2 separate regions of the Homo sapiens genome follow, and region 2 is linked to region 1. A link means that fine-mapping ties the variant in region 1 to the expression of a gene that starts in the linked region. Tissue or cell type: iPS cells. Region 1 holds a variant in brackets; the other region holds the start of a gene. All regions are shown on one strand. Distances are from middle to middle.

What was found. PIP is the estimated chance that this variant, and not a neighbour inherited with it, causes the effect.
Region 2: BEND4 starts here. The variant in region 1 is the best candidate, but not a certain one, in a credible set for the expression of BEND4 in iPS cells (PhLiPS, PIP 0.88).

The regions. Positions count from the first base shown.
Region 1 is chr4:42,269,863-42,272,620 of GRCh38, reverse strand. No RefSeq gene overlaps it. Among named protein-coding and RNA genes, the nearest start is that of BEND4, 120 kb to the right of the region's middle. The variant A/G (reference allele first, on the strand shown) is at 1,254.
Region 2 is chr4:42,151,300-42,154,057 of GRCh38, reverse strand. BEND4 (BEN domain containing 4) reads left to right here and starts at 1,403. Exons shown (of 6, transcript NM_207406.4): 1 at 1,403-1,526; 2 at 1,682-2,401. The coding sequence starts at 1,915. RefSeq lists silencers at 1,711-2,030, 2,231-2,320 and an enhancer at 2,086-2,758.

The DNA.
Region 1 (2,758 bases):
TTCTGTAGCCACCTATAGGTTTTGAGCTCTGTTAATCAGGACTGAAAATCAATAATCACCAAGCCATAGGCCACACTGCATTCTCCATCAATTATTTGTAAATAAAAATAACAAGATCTCCCAAAGGTTGGTTGAGTTTCTTAAAAAAAAGTATTCTGTAGGCTTATTTATAAGAACTCCTACTACCTATTATATGAGCTAAGAATACAGACACCAGCTACCAGGAATCAATATGTACTCAAATTGCTCCATCAATATGCATGTTCATTTATTCCCTTCAAGGTTATCTTGGCTGTTCAGGGCAGACACTCATTTTCTCTATTATAGCCGTGCCCTTTAGGTTGAGTGAGACAAGCAGAAGGAAGAAGCCTCTCATACAAGGACATCAGTTTGTGTATTTGCAGCCTTGGAAATCAGGCAGACCACTCTGGTAAGAGGGGTGAGAGCCTGTGGCTGGTATCTCCACCTGCTTTTCTTGTTTACTCAGAAAATTTACTCTGTGTTTATTCAGGAGTGTAATGTGTGAATTCAGGAAACATAGCCCCTCTAGGATTTCCCCAGATAAACAGTGAAGGGTGGTGGAATATGTCACCCCAAAAGATGCCACTTTGGCATATAAATTATTTTGAGTTAGAGGCACTTTTTTTTTTTTTTTTTTTTTTTTGAGATGGAGTTTCACTCTGTCACCCAGGCTGGAGTGCAGTGGTGCAATCTTGGCTCGCTGTAAACTCTGCCTCCTGGGTTCAAGCAAGTAGTTGGGATTACAGGCACACAAGAGCAAGCACAAGAAGACTGCACTCTTTTCCCTTTGTTTTCCCAAAAGCAGGAGACAAAATCTCCATGTGAAAAATGTCCTCCATACACAAAGGAAAGCAACATTCCCGTCACTGTAAGAATGAAGGGAGTTTTTTCCCCACCCCTCTGAAAGTTCGATAATTTGAGTCTATAAGACAAACTGATAGCTGGGTGCAGTGGTTCATGCCTGTAATCCCAGCACTTTGGAAGGCCAAGGCAAGAGGATCACTTGAGCCCAGGAGTCTGGGACCAGCCTGGGCAAAAAAGTGAGACCTCATCTCTCTTTTTAATTAAGAAAAAAAAAACAAACTGACAATAGAAAGACTAACCAAAAATAAGGCATAAAAATGTATTACATCCGTAAGCATGGGAGTCACACAGAATATGAGAACTCAAAGAAGAGCCAGGTGACTGAAGTTTTTACACCGTACACAAGGAAATAGAGCCTGTAGCTCCTG[A/G]GGGGAGGTGGTGACAGGTTATAGGAGGGTGAAGGGAAGAAACTCACAGTGAGCAAAGGCTGGCTTGTTATGCAGATGAAGCCTTTCAGGTAGCAGCCCTCAGAGAGAATAGATGGTAGCCCATGGTAAAGATTTCCCTTTCAAACCTTAGGTCTTCTTTTCCTGCAAGTTGATCTTTCCTAGATCCGGATAAGAGGACCTCAGAGAAAGCCTCTTCCTGCATCCCCCATTTGCTTCACTAATTTGGGTAAATGTAAATTTTTCTTTTACAAAAGGATAGTTTTTCTGAGCTATTTCTTTCTACAGTTTCTCTGAATAACCAACTCAAAATATGCCAAAGAAGTATATTTTGGGGTGGCATATTTTGGTTTCCCACATCATCAAGAACGGGAAGTTGAGACCAAGAGAATTCTGAACAAACAGACCTTGTTAAAATAATCCTTATATTCCGTTAGCCTCCTCACATAGTTTAGTTACTTTTCCACAATTGCATTTCTTTTTTTTTTTTTTTTCGAGATGGAGTCTTGCTCTGTCACCCAGAGCTGGAGTGCAATGGCACCATCTCAGCTCACTGCAACCTCTGCCTCCCGGGTTCAAATAATTCTCCTGCCTCAGCCTCCCAGGTAGCTGAGATTATAGGCCCGTGCCACCACACCTGGCTAATTTTTGTATTTTTAGTAGAAATGGGGTTTCACCATGTTGGCCAGGCTGGTCTCAAACTCCTGACCTTGTGATCCACCCACCTCGGCCTCCCAAAGTGCTGGGATTTACAGGCATGAGCCACCACACCAGCCCCAAAATTGCATTTCTTTGCTCAACCTGGTATAAAAGCATTTAGATTTTGCCACTTCTTTGGGTCTTCATTTTCTTATGAGGGTCCCTATGGCACATAAAACTTATATTAAATAAATTTGTATGTGTTTATGCTGTTAATCTGTCTCATGTTAGTTTAGTTTTAAATTTTTTTATTTTTTTATTTTTATTTTTAGAGATAGGGGTCTCGCTCTGTTGTTCAGGCTGAAGTGCAGGGGCATGATCATAACCTACTACATCCTTGAACTTCCGGGTTCACATGATCCTCCTGCCTCATTATGTCAGTTTAATTCTCAGGCCCAGCCAAAACAGCCCTAAGAGAGTAGAGGTAAAATTTTGCCTACCTAACATCAAGGTCACCAACCATGCAGATAAGGTAAAAGCATAACCATTTTAACCTATTTTGTATCAAAGAGCTTGGAACTTATGGTACATAATGAATAAATGGCCATTGTATAAATAAAACATGTTATGTGGAGAGACAACCTGGCTCCAAAACAAACCTCTGCTACTTACTAAATGCATGTTAGTTAACTTCTCTGGGCTCCAGTTTCCTTATCTGAAAAATGAGGACAATAAAATCTGCCATATTAGATTGTAGTAAAGATTAAATAAAAGAGCTTAATAAAGCACCTAGCACAGTACCTGGTAGACAGTTGGTAAAGGAAACCAAAATATGCCACCCAAAAATA
Region 2 (2,758 bases), 120 kb after region 1:
TCTCATGCTTGTCTCCTTTTCCTAGTGATCCACGTGTCCTCATTTAGCAGTTTTCAGAAGCCAGGGAGAAACATTGCAAATAATGTTAAATATGATTAATATCTTGAATTCCTTGAAATATGACATGCATGAGTTACAATGAAACCTCTTTTATTTCCCCATGAAATGCTTTTGCATAATGAGAAAGAAAATGTCCTCTATGCCCTAATCAGCCCTGACAGTTCCTGGACTCCCAAATACTTATATTTATGGCATTATTTATTTCATCTCTAATAAATGGATTGGGGGGGGGACACAGCACCATCTGAGGAAGCTGCAGGAGAGAGGGAGACAATCTAGGGGGGAATAATACAGAAGCTGAACCAGCAAGGCAGAGAGAAAAAGCTTCCAAAGGGAAGGAGACCAGGGAAAGAGAGGCCAAAAGATGTGAACCCCCAGAAGAAAATGGGTCACCTTCCTAAGAATAAAAGGAAGGCTCTGAAAAGGAAACAAACTTCAGAGTGCAGAGATGAGGGTCCTACATCAAGGAGCATCCAGAACTCTGACCTGGAGAACGAAAAAGGAAGGCTGAAAAGCAAACCTGGGGCAGGGTATGCTGGTTGGCCTAGAAGAGGGGTGATTTGGGATAGGGAGCAATGGACCCTCTGCCCCAAAAAGTGGCTGGGAGAGACCAGGACATCTGCATCCCATGGAGGATCTTCCTCCCAACGACTGAGATCTCTCATTCAAACGGCTACTGAAATTGGGCACCCTCCAGACCCTCGCCGGATGGCGCCAGTTGCAGTGAGTAAAACAATGCAAGGAGTGAGTTCTCGTGTTTCCCTGGGCTTGCAAGTACATATACATATATTAAAAATGACACTGTTGAAAGTAATCATCACCTCAAAGGGAGGTATCAGGACATTTCCCCACTCAATTGCACAGAGGCTACTGGCTATGGGAAGTGAGGAGTTGACTTCAAATAACCTGGATGCGTCAGTGCAACACAGCCGCACACTCCCGAGTGTCTGACTTTGGGCAATTCCCTTCAACCTCTCAGAGCCTCGGTTTTCTCATCTTTATAATGGGGGGGAAATCATGGTGTCATGCACGTTCTCGGGGCCCCTACGGGAAACAAATGAAAACGTGAAAAAGTTCTACGCCTTGCGAGCTTTTATGTTCCGCATGAGCTCAGAGGCCGCGATGCTCGGGGAAAGCAGGACCCCAAAGCCCCGTAAACACCGCGCGACCACCCGGGCCAAGATCTTCAAGAGGTTCTTTTCAGAAGGATCGGAGAGCAATTCCCGATTGGTAGAAGAACTTGCTGTAATACACACGTACTCTGACGACCCCGCCCCAACGACTAGCCCCTCCTCTGTGCAACCCCGAGAGTTTGGGGTCATGCAGGGGGCGCCACGAGCTCGTTTCGGAAGCCGGACCCCGCCCGCAGCCGCAGAAGCCTCGAGTCCACATCTGGGTCTCTAAAGTCTCGCCGTAGCCAGATCCCGGATCCCCACCTTCTTCACCAGTTCCCGGGCGTCCTCCAGGTCCTCGCTTTCCCCCTTCCCCCGCTCCCCGTCGGAGGCGCGGAGCCGCCAGGCAGACCCCGCGGGCGGCTGCGGCGCCAGGCCCCGCCCCGCCCCCATTATCATTAGCAGATATTACCCTAAACACTTGCTCTTTACCTCCTTTCTCCCTCCAGGCATTGGCGAGGCAGCCTGTCAATCAGGAGCTCGGGCGGCAGCCCCCCGCGCGGGGGCTCGGCGATGCCAGCCTCAGCGACAGGCGGCGGCGGCGGCGGCCACGGCACAGACACACACCCTCCCACACGCGCGCACCAGGGCAGACCCGGCGGGCAGGCGGCGGAGGCACCCTCGGAGCCCGGCGCCCGGCGGGGAGGGGACGTGCTCCGAGGGACCGGCCCCGAGGCGCCGGATGGAGGAAGAGATGCAGCCGGCAGAGGAGGGGCCCAGCGTCCCCAAAATCTACAAGCAGCGCAGCCCCTACAGCGTCCTCAAGACGTTCCCCAGCAAGAGACCGGCGCTGGCCAAGCGCTACGAGCGACCCACCCTGGTGGAGCTGCCGCACGTGCGGGCGCCCCCGCCGCCCCCGCCGCCCTTCGCGCCGCACGCCGCCGTCTCCATCAGCAGCAGCGAGCCGCCGCCGCAGCAGTTCCAGGCGCAGAGCTCCTACCCCCCCGGGCCCGGCCGGGCCGCCGCCGCCGCTTCGTCGTCGTCGCCGTCCTGCACGCCCGCCACATCCCAGGGCCACTTGAGGACTCCGGCGCAGCCGCCGCCCGCGTCCCCCGCCGCCTCCTCGTCGTCTTCGTTCGCCGCTGTCGTCAGGTATGGCCCAGGCGCGGCGGCGGCCGCCGGCACCGGCGGCACGGGTAGCGACAGCGCCAGCCTGGAGCTCAGCGCAGGTACCAACTCTCCGCACAACTTTCCTTCCCGCCACGGCCGGGGGCAGCGGGAGGGGACCCAGGAAGGAGAAGCGGGGGGCCGCCGACACTTACCCGTGCTGGGCCGTGTCGGGATGTCGGGGCGCACCTGGGGCCTCCCCGCGCACCCGGAAACTTCGAGAGGATTCTCCAGCGCCGCCGCGCCTGGGCTTCCGACGGCGCGCGCCTAACAGGTGGCTCCGCGGCTTGGATCCCGCGCCGGGAAGCACGGCTGTGGCAGTCGGCGACCAGGATCGCTCGGGCGTGGTCCGGAGTGGGGCCAGACGCCCCCCCGGGGGATAGCGGCGGCCGCTCGGGAAGAAGCTGGAGCTTCTCGGG